Linked DNA regions of Homo sapiens: region 2 is linked to region 1. Evidence: fine-mapped expression QTL. A gene starts in region 1. The other region holds a variant in brackets. All regions are shown on one strand. Distances are between the middles of the regions. Region 1 holds the start of PLCH2 (phospholipase C eta 2). Region 2 has its middle 9.9 kb from the start of PEX10.

The links.
Region 2: its variant is fine-mapped to the expression of PLCH2 in whole blood (TOPMed, PIP above 0.99). The same link has a PIP of 0.9 or more in blood mononuclear cells.

The regions. Positions count from the first base shown.
Region 1 is chr1:2,468,208-2,479,573 of GRCh38, forward strand. It overlaps PLCH2 (phospholipase C eta 2), which reads left to right and starts at 8,082. Exons shown (of 22, transcript NM_014638.4): 1 at 8,082-8,505; 2 at 10,269-10,415. The coding sequence starts at 8,382.
Region 2 is chr1:2,416,963-2,427,956 of GRCh38, forward strand. It overlaps a transcript of PLCH2 not described here. Among named protein-coding and RNA genes, the nearest start is that of PEX10, 9.9 kb to the left of the region's middle. The variant T/C (reference allele first, on the strand shown) is at 5,429.

The sequences.
Region 1 (11,366 bases):
CAGGGGCAGCTGCTGCTTTCTCTGGGGGGCCTGCAGTTGCTGTGCGTCCTCAGGGTTCCCTGGAGTTACACTCTGGTCTGGCCCATCCCGCTCCGCTCCGGGTTGGAGATTTCTTGCTGTGATCTGTCACGCTTTCCTGACCTGGGAGCCGGACATTGCCCTGCGCAGACAGAGCGGAGCAGCAGGGGTGGCGGAAGCCCCGGGGCTGTTCACAGCAGGAGCTTCCGAGGGGCATCCTGGGCAGGCCCCTTCAGCACTGGCTGGGGCAGGGTCTACAGCTCCCCAAACACAGCGCTAGCTCTGGGCCAGAGGGGCAGGGTCTCCAGCTCCCCAAACACAGCGCTAGCTCTGGGCCAGGGGCGGGGAGAGGAAAACGTGAAGGGGGACAGTGGCCACGGCTGCAGAAGAAGTGGCTCAGGCCAGACACCAGGAGGAACTCCTGGGTTTCCAGGGACAGTAGGAGCTTGCCTCCTGGTGGTTTGGAACCTGCTTGTTCTGCCCTGTGATTGGCATGGACACGTGGGGTGGGACATGGCATCGCTGCTGGGCAGACTGGGGACGGGTTGCTGGTTTTTGCCTCTGATAAACCGTGTGACCTCACACAAGGGACTGAGCCTCTCTGAGCCTCCATGGGCAAGAGGGATAGCATGGGGCGCTTTCACAGGGTGGCTGTGGGCATTCAGAGCAAGCCTGTCTGCAGTGGTCATGCCGTGCCTGGCCTGTGCAGCTGCTCCAGGGTGCCTGTCCCCTCCTCTGTCCCACCCCCAGTGGAGGTGCCCTCTCTGAATGGAGAATAGTGTGGCAGATGTAACCAGGGCTGCTGGGCAGACACTGTTTGTAGGATGGGCTGTATATTCAGGTCACTCCAGGTGCACCCACTCGCTGACCGCAGCCCCCATCCCAGGGCTCTCCTGGGCACGTTGTCCCTGGTTCCTGCCTGTCTGGCCTGCAGAGAGCTCCCTGGAGTCACTGCCCTGTGCTGGCCACTGGGCTCAGGATGCCTGCCTGCTGTGGACAGGGGCTGGCTGCTGCCGGGTGGCCCCAAAGCCCCAGGTTCCAGGAGACCCAGCACACTTGGGGTCTGCAGCTGGCCAGGGAAGGGCCTAGTCTTAGGAGGGGGCAGTGGTGGGAGTGGCTCTGAGCCCACCCTCCGTGCCTGCGTCCTCTGGGCAGAGGGAGGGGAGCCAGCAGAACAGTCCTTACAGACTCCACGTGCCGCCGAGGACGGAGCAGATGGGCCAGTGTCCTGGGTCCAGCCCTCCATCTGCACAGCTAATGAGCTGATGACGATGGCGTCCCAGTTCCTGGCACCTTCTCCTGGAGAAGCCATGGGCTGGCCCTGCCCGGGCAGTGCCCTTTGCTGGGGCAGGTGTGTGTGGGGTGCCTGGGGCCCTCTCAGGGACCCAGGCCCAGTGGCTCCACCTTCATTGAGGGTGGGCAGGGGGAGGGGTTGGGGAAGGGGATGAGTAATCCAACGTGCCTGTTTCTTCCCGGGATTTTGCTCCCAGCACTGCATACGTGGGCTCCCACCGGCTGGACGGACTTCCTGTGTGGGAAAGGCGAGTGGGCGCGGGCCTCCCGTGTGGGGGCAGGGTGGAGTTGGTGGACACCATCCCCAGGACAGGACGTTTCCTCTGGCTCCTGAGAAGTCACTCACCGTGGTGGCCGCAGGCATGGCTCCATGCTAGCTGGGTGAAGACCCCGAGAGGGGGCCTTGTGGCTGACGGTCACTGGAGACAACAGTGAGCCACTCTGGTGGGACTGTGGAACCCCCTCCAGCTCTGCCCCAGAGAGCAGCACCTGGGTGAGGGCTACAGGAGGCTCTTTCAGCAGGCAGGTCCCAGGCACCATGATGCAGCCCTGACTTGGGGACGGTGGCCACACTGTCCTGGGAGTAGGTCCCTTCCACCGCTCAGACCTGGCGACCCAGGAACACACCTCTGAGGGACTTGAGTGGTCTTGATTTCACATTGATCAGGCCCCTGGCTGCTCCGACTTTCAGGTCCCTGTTGTGGAGGTTTCGGGCGGCCCAGTTCTCAGGGGCAGCCCTGTGCCCTTCCTGGGTCAGCTGGTGTGTGGGTGGGGGCCGACCCAGGGAGCACCTCACTGGCTCCCAAAAGGCAGGAGTGGGAGACAGGGCAGCCAGCCCAGCCCCAGGGCCAGCTTGAGCAGGGAGGTCCAGACAGGGACGGAACGACTATACAAGATCCCAGAAACTTCAGGCAGGGAAGCTCAGAGGGCCAGCTCCATCTCCAGGACACCCTCTCTGTCTGAGACTCTCTGGCAGAGCATTCGTGGGGCTGCTCCCCGGCCTGGCAGTGGCCCGGGGTGCTCTGGCCGGGAAGAGCAGCCCCGTGCCGGGACGGATGTGGCGGGCTCAGCCTCCTGTTTCCTCGCCTCCTCCGTGGCTCCATGCCTGCTCTGCCTGGCAGCGGCCCAGCTGCCACCCTCCCTCCCGCGCCTGGCTATGGGCTGGGGGCAGGGCTGGCTCTGACCACTTGGCCCGAGGACCCTCCCCTTGGAGCTGCAGCCCCCTCCCCTCACTCGGCAGGAGCTCCCTCTCTCCCAGCTGGCAGGCCAGGCTCCATCTGGTGACTTTTCAGGAAAGGCTCCCCCACCGTGGCTGCCACGAGCCTGGCTCCCTCTGCAGCTCCTCTGGGGTGTCCTGGACGGTGGCTGGGGGCAAGGCCGTGCACCTGCCTTCAGAGAGCCCCAGGCCAGGTGGGTGCGATGCCCCTGCTGGCCATGCCCTGCTCAGTGAGGGCAGAGAGGCAGCCAGGGCCTCAGAGAAACCAGTGACTTGTGGCAGGGACAGGAGCCTCCAGGGACACACAATGGGGGGGGCACTCGCGGTGGGGGGAGGAAGCTGTGAAATGGGCTATTAATAGGGTCCCCTTCCTGATGGGGCTGTCAAGTGCGATTAATACCGCTGCTGTGAGCTGGGCTGCCACCAGCTGGGGATGGCTGGGGACGGCGAGGGGGCAGGAAGGGGAGCCCACTCTGGGAGGGACCCTTACTGAGATGGGGACCTGGCCCTGGCTGTCCCGAAGAGGCCAGAGAAAGGCCAGATGTTGGGGCCCCCTTGGCCATAGCGGGCCAGCTGGAGAGTGTGGAGGCCTGGGCTGGGCAGGCGCCCACCTGCACAAGAAGGGCTGCACTGGGGGAAGGTACGGGTCACCTGGCCTCAGAGGCCATCCTGTCCACTTGCCACTGCCGGCTGCTTGGAGGGTCCAGTGGCCTCAAGTTCCTGCACCTTTCTGTGCAACTGGGACTGCTTTGGACACCTGTGACCATCACAAGTCCTCCTGTCCATCCCTCCACACCGGGTGGCCGGATGACAGAAGAAAGGTGTCTGCTGGCCCTCCCTCTGGGCCCTGTGGGAGCTGGATCCTTCTAGCAGCAGCTGGGCCACCAGGGGAGCATGAGCCTGGCTGCTGTCCTCCCCCTGCTCTGGGGCCGGTGGAAGGTGGAGGGCAGGTCAGGTGGCGCGGCCGATGGAGTATGGCTGGCCATCGAGAACCTGTCCCCACGCTCTAGGACACTGGCCGTTCCAGCTCCCCCAGGGCTCTGTGCACACGGACCAGGAGCCACCCAAGGGGGCAGAACAAAGTCAGGCCCCAGGGCCCCCTCCGGCCTGCTCCCCTGCCGAGCTGGGTACTGCCATGGGGTCAGGCCCTTCCCTCCACAACGCCCCCACCTCCTGCTGAGAGCTGGAGTGGCTGCCACACGGAGGGCGCTGCCAGAGGAGAGGGCAGAGCGTCTGTCCCTGCGGTGCCCTCCAGGTGTGCCTAGGGTGGCCCCAGCCCCACAGGCCCCGGGCACTTGCCCTTGGTTCCCCTGCCCTTGCTGGGACCCCTCAGGCCCAGCCTGACTCTGGGATCCCTGGGCTCCTAGCACGACCACTCTGGGGTCCTGCCTGTGGGGAGGGCTCGAGGCACCGACTCACACTCCTGATAAAATAAAAATAGTTGGGGAGGAGGCTCCCAGACGTGCGGGGGGACAAGTGGCTTCTCTCAGACGTTTAAATAATCTCCGCCATATGTGTGTGGGCCCGGCCCTCCCTCCCGTGCGGCGCCAGTCCAGGGGCCCGGCTGATCTCCAGTGAGCACTGTGGCTGGGGCAAGGTGGCCACTTCCTCCTCCCTCCCGTCCACCCAAGCACAGCCTCAGCCCCTCCTGCATGCTGGGCCGGCCCTTGGGGGCAGCACGGGAGGGGGATGCTGGGGCTGCGAGGGGCAGGGGGGCGCGGAAGAGCCAGGGCCAGGAAGGGCTGCAGGAGCATCTGGCCCTCATGCCTCACTGCTGCTGAGGTCCTTTGCTCTCCTAGCCCTGGGATGCGGCTGCCTCAGGGACTCTTGGTGGCCCTGGAGGGTGGGTAGGCTGGCCTGGGGGCCATTGGGACAGCAGGTGACGGTCAGGCCAATGCCAGCCGGGCCCAGGCACAGCCCTGTGGGGGCTTCAGAGGGAGACACGGGTGGGCCCAGGGAGGTCCTTTGAAATGTCCTGCTGAAAGGCAGCAAGCGTCGGGAGAGGAGGGGGCTTAGAGGCAGCCAGGGCCACCTCTGGACAGGCCTGGAAGAGGTGGGGCCCCTGCCCGTCCCGTACACGCTCGTGAAGGGAAGAGGTTGGTGGAGGGGCATGTGCAGTCCCCATGCCCCTGTCGTGGGAGGGGCTGCGGTACCCAAAGCTGCCCCGGGTGTGTGTGTACATGCCGGGAGGCCTGTGGGTGTGATTTGTGGGTTTTGTTGGAAGATTCATTATTTTCCAGCCTTCCCCAGGGGAGAGGCGGAGATGCTGAGCCACCGCTGGCCCCTTGTTGATGACAGCCGCGAGGCCCATGCTGCCTGCTGTGTTAGGACAAGATCGATCTCCGCCATAAAAACAAAATTAAGCCAACACCGCCCTGGCTTCTGACAGCGCGCGCTCTTCCTCTAATCAGCTGCCACCCGCCCGGTTCCAGCCTTGGGAAGAAAGGAAGGGGCTGCAGGAGCAAACCTCTCACAGTGGGGAAACTGAGGCACTGAGACAGGGAGGACAACCCAAGGTCGGGGGGCAGGCCCAGGACCCCTGCTTCCCAGCAGCCACCAGGGCCAGGCAGTCAGGGTGGGCCGGTGCAGCCCAGGTGCGGGGGCTGAGCCCAGGGGATCACGGGCGCATTCCTCTGCGTGTCACCGTGGGGCCCGCAGAGCCCTCCCATGCACTCTCCCCAACTGGGGTGCAGCCCCGTCTGCCCGTCTGTCCACCCATCCGCCCATCTGGGTGCATCTGTGTGGGAGGCTTCTCCAGGCCCAGGGCTGAAGCCGGCCAGACCCTTGAGAGCTGGACCCTGGACACCAGTGTGGACACTGGCTCCCGTCACCTCCTCAGAGCAGGCCTGGTGGCCTTAGCTGCCTCTGTCCTGCCCGTCCCTCCCTGTCCACCTGTGTCCAGCCAGCGCCTGCTACGTGTTGGATCATGGCCTCACAGGGACAGAGCAGGGAGGAGGACTTCGAGGTCCCTGCCCCAGGGATGTCCCGGGGTCAGGCAGTGCTCTGAGGACTGGGGAGCCCCACTGTGCTGTGCAGGGACCTGGGGGAGCAGCAGGTGAGCCAGGGCCCTCCTCTCCCCGACGGAGCCTATATCTGCCCGACCAGGACTGCCGGCCCTTCCCAGTCTGGCCTCTGGTGTGGGCCCACAGCCAGGTGCATTGCTACAATCCCACCTGAGCTCCCACATCAGGTGTCCTGGCTCAGGCTCACGGGAGGGGCCGAGGCGGCCTGGGGGTGGGTGTGGACCATGGCTGAGGGCTGGGCCCCTGTGTGGAACCACAGAGCAGAGCGTGGCTTCTTCGGCCTCCCTGTGGGCTTTCAGGATGGCCGGGCCCTGGCTCAGGGCAGGCAGGGTGAGCATGAGGGCCCGTCAGTGCAGGCTGTGGGGCTGGGCTCGCCTGCCGGCATGGGGGTGGGGCAGCCCCCTCCGTGACCTTGTGTGGGGGCTGGGCTGGGCCCTGGGCCGGCTCACAGGCAGCACGTGGGGAGGGGTTCTTAAGTCTCTGGGCCTGGGCCCCTGCCACGTCTCTTGGCCCGGGGCACCCCCGGCTTCACGCTGCAGCTGCGGTTCTGTGTCTGCCTGAGTTTTGGAGGGGAGTGGGCGGTCCCTTTGGACCTCAGGGCAGGCAGGGCAGCCCCCGGCAGAGGCCTGTGTCAGGAAGGGATTAGCCAGGCCTCCACCCGCCTGGACAGTTGAGGATTCCAGCTCTGCTGCTGAGGAGGTCAGGGGGCCTGGGGTGCAGGAGCCTGGGACCCACGTTGTGGGGCTGGGGCCAGGCACTCTATGTGTGGCTCCTCTCAGAACCCCTGCCCAGGCAGATGGCGGCCTCCAAGCCCTAACCCCAGCTGATGGGGGATCAGCTAGTGGCTGAGAGCTCAAGGGAGGGAGGGAGGGAGCAGAGGCCCAGCCTTGGGGAGCTTCAAGGAGGGATGGGTGAGAGACGGGAGCACCCCCAGCTGGGGCCAGGCCCAGGGTGAGGGAACAGCAGGTGTGTCCCAGGCCAGGAGGCCTCTGAGGTGCAGGAAGGAGAACTGGACCCCCTGGGTCAGAGTGGAAGCCCGCAGCAGCCCAGTATGAGGTGGGCAGGGGCCCTGGGCCAGGGCTATGGCCGTCTGGTCTGTCTCCAGGCCCTCAGGCCACCTCCTGGCCCCTGCGCTGCCCCTTACACGGTGGCCTTCCCCGAGGCCCTGTCTTCCTGAGGACGCCCGGGACTCCAGCCCCTCTCCTCTCCCTGCAGCTCATGGCTCCCTAATCTAATTCCACGGCAGAGCCCAGAAACGCCTGCTGACCTGCTTCCGCCGAGAGCAGCAGAGCCTGTGACGGGGCCCCTGGTGGGGGCCTGGGTTGGCTCTGTGCTGACTGCATCTGATCTGGCTGGGTGTGGCCCTGGTTGTCAGTGGTCAGCTGGAGACGCATGGCCATCTCCTCAGGGACTGCCACCTCCCACGCCTGACCTTGGCCCCGGGGCTCTGCCAGGATGCCCAGCCCTGGCACCTCCCTGTCCTGGGCTCTGCAGGCCAAACTCCTCCCCTGGTATGGGGGGAGGCGAGCAGCTGCCCGGAACCTTCCAGTCCTTGTTGCTGGAGCCAGTAGAGCCTGGGCAGTGGGTGGGAAGAAGGGCGGGGTTCTCCCCAGTGTGGTCACGAAGCATGGGCATGGCCAGGACACAGGTGGCTGGTGTTCAGCCGGGGTCTGCCCACCTCCCATTCCCACAGCTGCCCCTGGTGTCCCGGCCTGGACTTGGGGATGGGAGAGCCTGTGCTGTCCTGTAGTGCGGGGCCAGTACACAGGGTGGGCTGTGTGGTCCTGGTGGCAGTGGGACCTGGAGTCCTTTCCTCAGTGGGAGCTGAGACGGTGGGGTGGGTCCTCCTTGGGCGAGGCCCCTGTCCAGGTCAGATGGCTGTCATCCCTGCAGGGCAGAATGTGGGGACAAACGTGCCCTGGGCATGGGGCCACCTCCTCCGCCACAGCTCGGTGACCGTGGAGAAAGGTCAGGCTGGGGCTGCAGCTGCATGAGGGAGACATGGAGAGCCCAACCCAGGCTCAGGGACCCACATCCTGGGCCTGGGCTGGGAGTTGTCGCTGTAAGGGATCCGGCTCGGCTCCCCTCTCCAGCCACAGGGGCTGGGCGCTGCGGGGATGAGGTGAGCTTCTGCCCCTGCTCTGGGCCACCTGCCTCTGGACTTTGGGGATCCACTCAGAGGTCCTCATAAGTAGGGATGCGGGGTGAGGGCAGGGACCACTCCAGGCCCAGCCTCGGCATCTGTGGTGGGCGCACAGCGGGGAGGCCCACCCCACACAGGGTCCTCGGAGGACAGTACCCTGCAGGCCTTCCGGTTGCGTTCTCTGGGTCCCAGGAGGGCCCTCCCGTTGGTCCTGCTCTTGTCCCGCAGCCCTGACCTGGGTCTGGTGGCCTGGGGCCTTGGGAAACTCTGTTGCCTCCCCAGTGCCCTCCCATCCCCAGCTGGGAGTTCCCTCGGCCTAAATCCTCCACCAGCTGGGCTGGAGCTGGGATTAGCACAGGGATTGGGCCTGGGGCTGGGCGGGGCTGAGGTCCTTTGCTCCCCCAGCCTTGGGAGGCGGCTGCGTCAGGGATTCCTTGGTGGCCCTGGAGGGTGGATAGGCTGGCCTGGGGGCCATCAGGACAGCAGGTGACGGTCAGGCCAATGCCAGCCGGGCCTGGGCACAGCCCTGTGGGGGCTTCGGAGGGCCCTGAGGAGGAGGAGGAAGAGGCAGAGGAGAGAAGGCCCCACGGAGGTCCTGTCGCCAGCGCTGCCACTGCCTGACCTCCGCTGCCCGAAGGCCGGTGGGCCTCTGTGGCCTCCGTGAAGCAGGCCCGGCTGTCGTCAGGCCATGTCTGGTCCATGGCCCTCCCCCGACAGCCGGACCAAGGGAACGGTGGCCTGGCTGGCGGAGGTACTCCTCTGGGTTGGAGGGAGTGTGGTGCTGTCTTCAGAGTGGCAGCTCGGCCCCCTGGGTAAGAAGGGGCAGGCGAGTGGCCTGGGCTGAGTGCTGGCCCTGGCCAGGTGACTGGTGGGTGGGGGCTGTTCCTGGAGGTGGGGGAAGCCTGGGCCTCCATCCCATCCTGCACTCGCCTCCCCTGTCCCCCGGGTGCTCTAGGGATCATGTGGGTCCAGCAGCGTCGGCTGGCCCTGCCCCTCAGCCGCTCAGAGGCGTGCTCAGCACACCTCGGTCTCCCAGGCACCTGCAGGGCCTGGGGGCTGAACCCAAGGGGGCGAGGGGGGATCTCAGGTGGCTCCAATGCTCTCATTGAAGGGGTGCCTTGTGCTCTGGGGGTCAGTGGTGCTTGCAGCCCAGGCGGCTGGGCTGGCATCCTGGTGCCGGACATGAGGGCCTTTGCCGTTAGGAGACTCTGCAGAGGAGACTGGCTGGGTATGGCTGGGAGGGTGGAGTGTGTGTCTTGTGGTGGCCTGTGGAGGGCCCCGGTCCGGGCTGGCCTGCCAGCTCTCTGTTCCAGCGGCAGACAGGGTCCTGTCCAGGCTGCCCTGTTGCAGGCCTCTGCCCGCCCCCTGCCCCTGTGTCCTGCCTCACCCCTCTCCTAAATCCCTGCAGCCATACCTGCGTCTTCACCTCCCATGTGCCCCGGAGAGCCCAGCCCCCCATGCCATGGCTTCCATCCCTTCAATTCCCCTCTGCTCGTGATCACGTAGTAGCTTCCCCAAGAAGGCCCGGCCAGTACTGCCCTTGGTCCTCTACAACGCCCCCGCCAGGGTCCCTCAGCGTGCAGACCTGGGGTGGGGATTAACGTCTCTGTGCTTTAGCAGATGGTACCTCTGGGACCCGGGCTTTCTGTGAGCAGGTGTGCAGGAACCGAGGGGGTGAGACCAGTCTGTTCCTGGGCTGGGACAGCTGACTCTGGCCTGGACTCCCTGGACCCTGCAGCCCCCTCTCCTGGGACAAGCTACAGCAGGAGGCTGAATGGAGAGAGGAGGGGAGAGAAGGAGCGAGGCAGGCAGCCTGGGGGAGGGGAGGGGAGGGGTTGTGAAGCTCGGATCCGGCACCACAGCCTCCCAAGTCCATACTGCAGTGCAGGGCGTGCGACGCAGACATTCATGGCACCATTCGTGGCGCTTGTTGCACATGAGGGGTGGGGGCTTTCCTGGAGATGCCCCAGGCAGGGGCACAGGCACTCAGGAATTCGACCGCTCCCAGGAGCCACCTGTGGCCAGGGGCGGGGGCAGGGGCATGGGGTTGCTGCCTGCTAGGCCCACCCCGCCCCTGACAAGGGGCCTCCACTGCACTATGGCCCCAGACAGCCAGCCCAGCCACCTCATCTGTCTTGCCTCGTGCCCGGCCTTCCCATTGTTGAGTTCTGTGCTGGCTCCGTCTGAGTGGTAGCTCTCGGGGCCCCAGGCCCAGCGCCGGTTACCAGGGCTGCTAGGACTGGTCCAGGAGGTGGTGGGAGTGGCAGGTGGCCGAGCAGGGTGGGGAGCAGGGCCCTCAGTTCCCAGGACCATCTGGGGAGGAGTGGCAGGGCCCAGCTGAGCTGTGTGACCCAGGCAAGCCGGCACCTGGGGTGGAGGTGGCCCTGGGCTCTGGCCTTTGCCCTGTCACTGGCAGGGCGGTGTGGGCGGGGCCGGGCGAGGTGAGGAGTGGCCGTGCCTCCGCTGACGGCCGTGTTTCTCCCGTGAGGAGTGGCCGTGCCTCCGCTGACGGCCGTGTCTCTCCTGCGAGGAGTGGCTGTGCCTCCGCTGACAGCCGTGTCTCTCCCGTGTCCAGTGGAGCGGTGCATGGGTGCCATGCAAGAGGGGATGCAGATGGTGAAGCTGCGTGGCGGCTCCAAGGGCCTGGTCCGCTTCTACTACCTGGACGAGCACCGCTCCTGCATCCGCTGGAGGCCCTCACGCAAGAACGAGAAGGCCAAGAGTGAGTGGGAGCCCTGGGGTGGGGACAAATCAGAGTCCCTGGGGGGACACGACGGTAGGGACCCTCCCAGGGCAGCCACTGATGGCTGAGGAGCAGCGAGACCCTAGGCCTGGACACCTCTGGGCTCAGTGGCCTTGGGGATCTGCAGTGACCTCGGGCTGTGGGGTAGGAGGGATCCAGGCCCCCTGCCCGCCTGGCAGAGCTCCCTGGGACTCAGTGAGGACCGAGTAGCACTGTGCCCAGCCCTGTGCTGAGTGCTGGGCTGGAAGGAGGGGCACAGCATAGTCCATCTAGCTGGGGAGGTCACAGCTCCCCATAAACAGAAACGACCCCCACAGAGGTATGCTGATGGATGGGTATGGGTGCAAACAGTGGCTCAGGCAGCCACTGGGCATGGCTGCTGGAGGGAGCAGGGGCCACCCGAGATGGAGGCTCTGTGCAGGGGGTGGGTGGGGAGAGTTGAGGCACACAGGGAACGGGTAGGGTCCCACGGTTTGGGGAGAGACATGGCAGTCCTCAAGGGCTGGGATCAGGGCGCAGCCAGGGTTTCTGATGGCTTTGCTGATGGTCAGGACCCAGGCATGCCAGGCAAGGCCTCAGCCCAGCAGTTGCCAAGCGTGTAGCCACTTTGGGCCCGTGGAGAGAGTCGCGCTGCGGAGCCCCCAGGGGGACCTGAGGTCACAAGAGCCTCGATGCACCTGAGCGCGGAGCTGGGGGTCCCTGGAGCCGCTGTCCCCACCTGCGGCGCTGGAGCCCTGGAGGTGTCCAGGGGCTTCCTTGGAACGTGGAGACGTGCTGGTTAAACGTGGAGCCCCGGGCCAGCCGGGCACTGGGGGCTGCAGGTGGAGGGAGGTGGATGCTCTCCCTCGTGGGGGCGTGTCTTTTCCACAGGAAAGGGAAAGGGGGAGGGACACGGGTCAGCAGTGGGGGGCTGTGCAGTCTCGCAGATCT
Region 2 (10,994 bases), 51 kb before region 1:
TAGGACCTTGAGGGAGCTAGGACAGGAAAGAGAAATGGGGAGGGGTCTGTGGAGAGAGGGGCATGGGCCTGTGGCAGAGTTGAGAAACTGATGGCCAGAGAGGCCATGCCTGGTCCAAGGCAGGCACAAGGTGAATCCCAGGTCAGTTTGCCCATACCTGTGTCCCAGTCTCTACCTGTCGCTGGGATTGGGGAGGGGTGCTGGGCACCATGACCTCGCTGATAGGAAATGAGGGGTCCTGGTGTGCAGCTGTCATCTGGGGTGAACCGGCTGATAACTAGGGGCTGGAAACCAAGGGTCCCCCAAAAAGGAGATCTGGGAGGACTTCCTGGAGGAAGAGACTTTGCACTGGTAAGAGTGAGGGAGGGCTCTGTCCATGTGAGAGGCATGGCCTTTTCTGACAAGTGGAGGCTGGGATTGTTGGGTTGGGGGGCACTAAGGGTGGGCCCTGCCCAGCTTCCCAGCCTCCTCTGTGAGGCCGGAGGGAGGGGGCCTGGTGAGTCTGGAATCACACAGGGTGGGGTTCCCAGGAGAGTGAGCCCAGGACCTGTGGGTACTAGGCAAGGCCGGAGAGGACCCACGAGGGAGGCCCAAGCTGGAATGGCGTCCACTCTGGATGTGGGCATCTGGATGGGCTGTGGAGAGTCCGGCCCTGTCCTGCGAGCACTGCATAGCCTGGGCTGTGCTGAGTGTGGCCAGCCGGTGAGGGGCTGTGTGCTGGCTGGAGGGCACCTGGGAGCCACCTCCTGAGGCACTGCCACGCCACCTTCCCCACACAGCCTCCCCTAAGGCAGAGTCAGGGCTGGGAGCCAGGCAGCCCTGGGAGGAGGGGACGGGCAGGGGCTACAGCCTCTGCGCTGAGGTGTGACCTTGAGCAGCTCCTGGTCTTCCCTGGCCTCAGCTTCCTCACCTGTCAAGTGGGGGAATAGAGGCCCCTGCCTCCCGGGTTATGAGAGGACTCAGGATGGCACATGTGTGGGGTGCCCTCCGGGGCCTGCCTCGGACCCCCAGCTCAGGGCTTTGCAGGCATTTAGACTCTGGTGAGAAGAGGCTGAGCCCAGGGCATCCCTGTGTCCTGCCCCCAAACGCGAACACGCAGGCACTCAGGAACCTGCAGGAGCTGTGGAGTCAGCGCAGTGAAGACGTGTGACCGGTGCGAGGCAGACACCCATCACGGCAGGTGCCCCCGAGAATTCCGGGCAGAGCCCACGTTGCTCTGTCTTCAGCCCCATAGCTAGTTGGTTTCTGAATTTTGTTTTTTGGAAACTGCACTGAACTGATTCACACCGATGAGCAGCTGCCGACAGTGACAGCGTCCAGCATTCCTCTGGGCGCCTTCAGTTAGACCGAGAGAGACAGGAGTGGGGGTGTTTTAGTTATCAAAGCTGGCTCCCGGGTCTGGATGCCAGGGTCAGGCATGGGGGCTCCTGCAGCGAGCTCTGGGGGTCTCAGTGGAGGGGGCAGGGCTCTGGTCGTTCTGCTCCACCACGTGCTAGAAGGAGGGGCCCCGGGGCCATGGCTGGCATTGGGCCCCACCCACTGCCTCCCTCGGACGGCTGAATGGTGTGGGTCATCCACTCCTGTTCTCCTCTGACCCGCCTCCTTCAGGAGTTCTGAACCTGGCATTTGATGCCCGATGGACAATAAGGGCTCCCCACGAGGCTGCTCCTCAGGGCTCAGGATCTTCAGTCAGGCAAAGGCTCCCCAAGTTCCAGGGGTGCCGTCCTGGACTCCTGAGCCTGCCCGCCTGCCTCCGCAGGTCCTGTCTGTGCGAGTGGGAGTGAGCCGTGTGCTCCGCAGACACCTGACCTGTGCGCTTATGACGGCCTCTCCTTTGCACATGGCCTCGACTTGGCTGTCCCCCTCTCCCTGGCTGCTGATCTCCCAGTGCCCAGTTATGCCCAGGTCTCTGCCCACCTCAGCCCACACTGGGTGGGGAAATGCTGGCGCAAAACCTGGCTTATTGGGGTTGCAGCCAAGTAGCCCTTGATTCTTCCTACCACTCCCCTACCCGAGAGAGGACCTGCTCACCTCCCCATCCTCGGGGTCTGTGCCCGACGCCTCTCTCTGCGGTTGGCACGGCTCATCCTCTGGCTGGGGCATGTGACACCTGGCCAAGGATGTGGCGTCTGAGGCTCCCCCATCTGTCTGCCCAGCTCCTTGCCCTTCCCTGCGTGGGGCCCGTCCCAGGAGAGCCTGCCCTGACCCTTCCCACCTGCGGTCATCTGTCCCCTCCCAGGCTGCCGGCCTGGTCTGCACGGTCGAGCTTCAATCCACAGTGGAGGCCTTGGGCTGTGCTGCTGTCTGTCTATCCATCCGTAAATCCATCTATCCCCTGCCAGCCCCTTCCCTCAGCACCCCTGGCTCAGCCGTGCCATTCCTGGTTGGCCCTGGAGGTCCTATTTGCTGGTCCTTGAGTTTCCCACTGATTGTGAAGAGACAATAATTGTCCAGAGGGGATCGAAGGGGCGCCTGTGCGGAGCTGGTCCACACTCTGAGGCCCGGGCCTCGGCCGTTGGTCGGGGGGGTTTTCCACTTGTTGTTGACAGAGGCGCCTCCCATGGCAGTGGGGTGCAGGGTCTCCCCTGGGGATGTGAGGCCGGTGAGGGCGGAAGGGGAGCAGGCAGGGGCCCGGGGCTCTCCAGATCTACCACCCCACCACCTCACTGGCTCTTCTTGCCCGGAGCTCAATGCAGGGATCCCCGTGCCTGACCCTGGCATCCACAGACCCGGGGGCCAGCTTTGAGGAGGCGCTGCTGGCTCTGGTGGAGGTGGTGACATGGGGCTCTGGAGACTTGGGGGCCGCTCATCCTTCTTCCTGTGGGCTCCACCATATTCATCCTTGGGGGATTAATCTGAAGCTGTCCGTAGAAGCTGGACTGGGACCCTCAAGCCAGCCCTGGGCTGGGGCCAGCCAGGCCCTTTCTGCCTCGGAACTGCTGCACCTGCTGCCCGTAGTCGGCTCTTGCCAACTCAAAGTTCAAGCATAGCAGGCCAAGTCCCCCCCCCACCCCCAGGCAACCCCTTTGTGCGCTCCCCCCACTACCCCCTCCTGTGCTGCCTCCCCAGTAGCCTGGGTACAGCTATGGGGGTGGGGGCAGGCACAGCAACAGTAACCTGCCTCCCCACTCCCCGCCATCTCTGGTCATTGGTCAGGAGCTCATCAGTGCTGAGTTAAGGACTCAGACAGGCCCCCCGCCCCAGCCCCTACCTCACATCCCTCTCAGCTGACCCCAACTCCTCCCCAAGACTTGGATCCCAAAGGAGCCAGTGTCTGGGGGGCATCCAGGCAGCACCTACCTCTTGTCCTTCCTCCCGCTGCTCGATTCCACTTTCAGCCCCCTGCCCTGTGATTTCAGGACAAAGCTTCCCAGGTGCAGGTCTGAAAGCTTCCACCTCCTTCGAGAGGTGGGTGTGGGGGCCTGTGGGGCCCAGTGATGCTGGCAAGGGGAGAAGGTCCAGGCAGGGGCGGGGTTGCGGATCCACAGTGGGATGCGGGGCTGAACGGTTATGTCCCGGTAGGTAGGGGCTGCAGAAAGAGCCCCGAGGGCTGGGGAGTCCCGGAGCTGGACCACAGGAAGGGCCTCAAGTCCGCCTGCCAGGTCCAGCTTCTCAGGACCCCAGGGCTGGGGCACACTCTTTGCACCCCGCTTTACAGATGAGGAAACTGAGTCAGAGAGGGAGAGTTTAAGGGCAGGCTTCAAGCTGACCTCTGACCCAGAGACCCCCATTTTGAAAAATCTCCTCTTCAGGCCTCAGGCCTGGAGGGCTGTGGGAGTCGCTCCTCTCTCGATTGGAGGGTGGAGTGAGTGATCGATCGATTCATTGCCTTTACCCACATCAGTATCTCTTCCCCCTTGGGACTCCTTCTGAGGAGCGTTGAGTGTGTATCTCGTTTTTTGTATTTTCCAGAATGCTGTGTTGTTCTGGTGCGAGTATTTTAATCACTATTAGTGGGGTGCAAATGTTTTGGCCTTAGTATCCCTTCACACTTTTTTTTTTTTTTTTGAGACAGAGTCTCACCCAGGCTGGAGTGCAGTGGTGCGATCTCGGCTCACTGCAACCTCTGCTTCCCGGGTTCAATCGATTTTCCTGCCTCAGCCTCCTGAGTAGCTGAGATTACAGGCATGCGCCACCACGCCTGGCTAATTTTTGTATTTTTAGTAGAGACGGAATTTCACCACGTTGGCCAGGCTGGTCTCGAACTCCTGACATCAGATGATCCACCCTCCTTGGCCTCCCAAAGTGCTGGGGTTACAGACGTGAGCCACTGCATCTGGCCCCAACACTCTTAGCAGCTGTTGAGAAGCCCAAGGAGCTTTGGTTTTGGGGTGCTGTCTGTAGTGTGTGCTGGAGCAGGCTTGCACGTGCTCACCAGAACCTACGGTAGCATCTCCAGTAATCTCATCAGCTGGTTGTTGGACACAACCATTATTCAAATCAAATTAAAGTAATTAAATTATGTAAAACACAGAAATACTATAAAAAGCAAAGGAAATAAATACTCAAAATGTATTGCTTCCTAATTATTTCTAGCTTACTGTGATCCACGCTGTTATCTGGGTGCAGTCTGTGTGTGTCTGTCTAGTGGAAATGCCGTATGATACTGTCCATCTCTTCCCCACTCTGTGCTCTGTGGGCTCAAGTGGGAATATTTACACCACATGTTTACACCACCTTCATAAAAAAATATGAAAATATTCATGAAGTCTTATTGAAAATAACAACGGGCCAGGCACAGTGGTTCACACCTGTAATCCCAGCACATTGGGAGGTCAAGGCAGGAGGATCACCTGAGGCCAGGAGTTTGAGACCAGCCTGGCCAACATGGTGAAACCCCGTCTCTACTAAAAATACAAAAATTAGCTGGGCGTGGTGGCGCATGCCTGTAATCTCAGCTACACAGGAGGCTGAGGCGGGAGAATTGCTTGAACCTGGGAAGCAGAGGCTGCAGTGAGCCAAGATCACGCCACTACACTCCAGCCCAGGCGACGGAGCAAGACTTTATCTCAAAAAAAGAAGAAAAGGCCAGGCGCAGTGGCTCACGCCTGTAATCCCAGCACTTTGGGAGGCTGAAGGAGGAGGATCACCTGAGGCCAGGAGTTTGAGACCATCCTGGCCAACATGGAAACCATGTCTCTACTAAAAATACAAAAATTAGCCGGGCATGGTGGCAGGTGCCTGTAATCTTAGCTACTCGGGAGGCTGAGGCAGGAGAATCGCTTGAACCCAGGAGGTGGAAGTTGCAGTGAGCCGAGATCGCGCCAGTGCACTCCAGCCTGGAGGACAGTGCAAGACTCCACCTCAAAAAACAAACAAACAAACAAAAACCCATAAACTAATGACATGTTAATAGAAATAACACGTTAACATTTTATGAAAAATACTTTCAAAACAAAAAAATCCAGTGAGAAGAGGGACGTGGCTT[T/C]GCAGTTTTGCAGTCTCTTGAATGTTTGTCTGCATCTGCGTTGCATCTGTCGCAGTGTGTTTTGGTTGAAATCAGTGAAGAGATCTGGCCTCACAGGGCTGAGCCGCCTTTTCAGGTAATCATGGACACTCTTCTCTGATGGTACACCCGGACTGGATGAATGGTAGAGTTTCTTACAGGTTGTTGCGATAACAGAATCTGAAACCGTGCCAATGGACTTTTTGTATTGTTACATTATCATCTGTTGTGTTACATTATCATCTGTTGGTCTGTTTTTACTTTGTTTTTTGTTTTTGTTATGTTTTGAGAAAGGGTCTTGCTCTGTTGCCCAGGCTGGAGTGCAGTGGTACCATCATAGCTCACTGTGGCCTCAAACTCCTGGCCTCAAGTGATCCTCCCACCTTAGCCTCCTAATGTGTTGGGATTACAGGCATGAGCCGCTGTACCTGGCCCTGTTTTTCACTTTGAGTGGAAATTTACCTGTGCATAATTTTGGAAGACCATGTTTTGGTATTAATAATTTGAAAAATATTGGTTTACTGAGTTATGCAGATTTTTCAAATCTTGACACGTTTTATTAAATATTATCCCAAAATCACATTACTATCACCCCGATCTCACGATAAAAGCCTTTAAATATTTGGAAGCTGATAGACTCACAGTGATGAATACAAGTTTTCCAAAATGCTGATTTTTACCTAAGCCTGAATTTTATTATTGGCAACAGATCCTGCAATTTGCTGTTTTGTGTTGTTTTGGAGAGGGTTTTATTTAGTTTTTTTGTTTGTTTGTTTGTTTGTTGTTTGTTTGTTTTAGAGACAAGGTCTTGCTCTGTCCCCCACGCTGGAATGCAGTGGCACCATCACAGTTCACCGTAACCTCGAACTCCTGGGCTGAAGCAATCCTCCTGCCTCAGCTTCCTGAGTAGCTGGGACCACAGGCACATCCCCCCACACCCAGCTATTTTTTTTAAAGAGATGGGATCTTGCTCTGTTGTCCCTGCTGTTCTTGTTACAAGGCCACCAGGTTGGTGTGCCCTCTGCACAGTAACCAACCGATACACGGAGACAGCAGGGTTTGCAGCAGAGAAAGCTTAATGATTGCAGGTGCCAAGCAAGGAGATGGGAGGAGACCCTCAAATCCACCTCCCCTGGAGTTCTGGGCTGGGGTTCTTAAGGAGATTATGGAGGGTGAGGGGCTGGAGAAGCTGGGGTCACTGACTTGTTGGGGTAAGGGGGATGAAATCAGGAGGTGGAAAATGCATTTGCTGGTGAGTCAGCTCCTGTGAGGTCCTTCCCACCAGCTGGCATCAGTAATTTTACTGTTATGCAGGACCTGAAAGAGCATCTCAGATGGAAATCAACCTTTTACAATGTTTAAGTTGTTCTCTCTATGGTAGTTAGGGGAACTATGATCTTGGGACGGGGTCTGTGTGATTCTGGGGCAGTAGGCAGCAACAGTTATGAGGAGAGGTCAGAGAGCCAGCCCACCTCGTCGTGACGCTGCCTGCACCACCAGCTTAGTTCATTTTCCCTTCTCCCCCTCCCTTCTTCTCTGAATAATTTTATAAAGTTTACAGGGGTGATTTCAGCCTCAAACCCTGTCTTCAAGTGGTGCTCCCACCCTGGCCTCCCAGCATGAGCCTCTGTGCCCGGCCTGTTTATTTTTAAATTTCATTTTTAAAAGTATATATTTGACAGATTATAGTTGTATATATTTATGAGGTAGATAGTGATGTTATGATTTTTAAATACAATCATTTCAGTTTAAATCAAGCTAATTAACATAACCATCACCTCAGATATTTACCATCTTTTGTGGTGAGAACATTTGACATGTACTCTTAGCAGTTTTGAAATGCACGAAACTCTATTATTAATTATATTCACCATGCTGCACAACAGAACTAAAAAATTCCCCCAAACCACAAAACATACCCTTCCTGTCTAACTGAGGCCTGGCACCCTTTGGCCATCATCTCCCCATTCCCCAAACCCTGGCCTCTAGGGACCAGCTTTCTACCCTGCTTCTATGAGCTCAGGTGTTTTAGATTCTACATATAAGTGAGAAGATGTGGTATTTGTCTCCTGTGGTTTGGCTTATATCACTTAACTTGATGTTCTCCAGTTCCATCCATGTTGTTGAAAATGACAGAATTTCTTCCTTTTTAAAGGCTGAGGCCAGGTGCGGTGGCTCACAGCTATAATCCCAGCACTTTGGGAGGCTGGGGCAGGCAGATCACTTGAGATCAGGAGTTTGAGACCAGCCTGGCCAACATGGCAAAACCCCATCTCTACTAAAAATACACAAAATTAGGCCGGGCGCGGTGGCTCATGCCTGTAATCCCAGCACTTTGGGAGGCCAAGGCGGGCGGATCACGAGGTCAGGAGATCGAGACCATCCTGGCTAACACAGTGAAACCCTGTCTCTACTAAAAATAAAAAAATTAGCTGGGCATGGTGGCGGGCGCCTGTAGTCCCAGTTACTCGGGAGGCTGAGGCAGGAGAATGGTGTGGACCCGGGAGGCGAAGGTTGCAGTGAGCTGAGATTGCTCCACTGCACTCCATCCTGGGCAACAGAGCAAGACTCCGTCTCAAAAAAACAAAAAACAAAAAACACAAAATTAGACGTGCGTGGTGGCGGCCACCTGTAATCCCAGCTACTCAGGAGGCTGAGGCAGGAGAATCACTTGAACCCAGGAGGCGGAGGCTGCAGTGAGCGGAGATCGCGCCACCGCACTCCAGCCTAGGCGATAGAGTGTGACACTCCGTCTCAAAAAAAAAAAAAAAAAAAGCTGAATAGTATTTCGTTGCTTGGGCGCATGCACACACACACATATTTACACACACATATGTAACACACACATACATACACACATATACACACACATATATACACATGCACAGATACACATATACATACACACATATACACACACATACACCCCCCCACACACATTTTCTGTATCCACTCATCCACTGATGGACACTCAGGCTGATTCTGTAACTCGGCTGTTGTGAACAGTGTGGCAGTGGACATGGAAATGCAGGTCTCTTCAACACGTGGATTTCATTTCCTTTGGGAGTATATGCAGGAGTGGGGTTGCTGGATCTGCTCTGCTGGTTTTTAGGTGGCAGGCTTTAGACAGGGTCTGCCTCTGTTGCCAAGGTTGGAGTGCAGTGGCATGATCTTGGCTGACTGCAATTTCTGCCTTCTGTGCTCAAGTGATTCTCCTGCCTCAGACCCCCAAGTAGCCGGGATTACAGGCACGTACCACCGCGCCTGGCTAATTTTGGTGTGTTTTTTTTTTTTTTGTAGAGATGGAGTTTCACCATGTTGCCCAGGCTGGTCTGAAACTCCTCAGTTGAGCAATCCACCTGCCTTGGCCTCCCAAAGTTCTGGGATGACAGGAGTGAGGCACTGCGCTGGGCTCATGCATTTTTGAGGAAATACCTATGCAGCACACGGCCGGCAGCACCACAGTGTCTCAGCTGTCTTTCCAGGAAAGTCCTGCTCCCCACTATACTGTGGGTCCCCCGGCTAATTCAGCTGGAGTCCCCGTCGCTCGAGAGCCTCCTCCCAGGAAAACGCCCTTTGCTGCGGCAGCTTTCTGTTCTCCCTGGCTCCCTGCACGGAACTGAGCTTTGGTACAGTTCATCATTTGTGCTGTTTCAACAAAGACCTTCTTAGGGAAATGGCCTCTTCTCTGCTTTAATTCTGAGCACGCACTGGTGAAGGACACTGTATCTGAGCCGAGGCCCAGGGTGTCACCCATCAGAGCCTTTCACCATCTGTGCAGATGTCAGCGCGGGGAAGGGACACCTCCTTTACATAAAAACAGCTTAGACCTTGCAGGCTCCTGGAAGATTCTGAGGACCCCAGGGTTATGTGGGCCACACTCTGGGGAGCAGTGTCTATGGCCCCGTGTTTGGCCAAGCACCCCGTTCTGATCTTTACTTTCTCCACCTGGCACTAAGCTTCCCCTTCTTGCTTCTAACACTGAGTGGGGCTCCGGGGTGTCCCCCACCCCATGGCCTCCCAAAGTCCCTGGTTCGGGGCTGCCGTGAGCAGCCTCCTGAGTCCCCATGGGGTCCTGGGGGCCTTTCCCTCCGGGTCAGAGTGGCGGAGTCCCCGGCCTACACACACGAGCTCGGCCCAGTGCTCCCACGCTGACCTAGGGCTGGCCCCTCGCGGTCTTCCCTTCCCTTGTCAAACACCCCTCCCTCTGTCTCCAGAGTGCCGGCGAGCTGGGCGGGCTCCACTCCCTCCATGAAGCTGGCCCCTGAGCGCAGATGTGCAGGCTGGCATTCCTGCCCGCTGTGAGCATGGAGGGGCCTGGCCTCAGCCTCGCACTTCCTGACACGGTTGTGGGGTCGGGGCTGCTGGGTTCTTTGTCTCCCTGTGCGGCCAGGCCAGCAGGTGGGCGTAGCCAGGCGGGCTCCAGCAACCCCACCAGCTTGGGGGCAGCGGCTGAGCTTGCTGGGGCCTGTGGCTTCTCCGGGGCCTTAGGTCTGTGTTCCCTGCATCCGCTAAGTCCAGGGGTGGGAGCAGGGCCTCACAGAGGGGCCTTGGGCTGGGAGAGTGGGGAGGACTGTGGGCAGCCAGTGGCCCCTGGCAGAGTGGCAGAGGCCCAGCCATAGGCTCACTGGCATGGGGCCTGGTCTGCCTCCTATGCCCAGGACGTCTTGGCCGGGGGTCTCCATACCTGGGACCCACGTTCAGCCTGGAGACGGAAGTCAGGGTAGCAGGGAAGTAGCAGGAGGTGGCCTCTGTGTGACAGCGGGTGCCGGCGGCTAGGGGCCCACCGGGTGGAGCTCCTGGGGGCGTTGAGGAGCTGGGCAGTGGGCTGCAGTGGGGCGCCCTGGGGCCAGGAGGGCAGCTGGGGCAGGCAGGCTGTCCCCTCACCCTCTGGGTCTCTCGTGGGGGCCCGGGGCCGCAGGTCTGGGACGAGTCAGGTGCTGGGGGCAGCCGAACCCGCCCCAGCTCAGCCGCCCCTGCTGGTGGTTTCTCCGGGATAGGGTCCTGCCCTCTCTGGGCCTCAATCTCTCCCTCCTGAGAGTGGACTCTCTTGTGGGCTGGGTGGCCAGTGGGGCCTCAGGCCAGGAGGGAGAGGGAGCCCCTCTGTGACATCTTTCCTGGAGAGGCTGAGGCTCCCACTTCTACCTGCCCTCAGGGGGCTTCCTGAGCCAGGGGATACCAGCCAAGGGTGTGGCACCCCACTTCCTGGGCACTGCCGCAGAAGGTGGGAGGGAGGATGGGAGGATGTCAGAGGAGCAGGCCGGGGCTTGTGGGGGCCTCCGGTACCTCTGCTGGGAGCTCGCGATCCAAGGGACACAGCGTGAGGGGCCACCGCAGGTATTGAAACAGAAGCAGCCGGCGAGCCCTCCAGAAGTGGGAGCCCTCCAGAAGTGGGAGCCCTCCGGGGGTGGGAGCCCTCCAGGGGTGGGAGCCGGCTTGGACTCGCTGGCCCTGAGCAGGTACCTGGGCTCTCCCTGTGGGTGAGAGCAGTGGGCGGGCAGGCTGGGAACTTAGGGCTGTAGGACCTGCTGAGTGGGTGACACTTCAT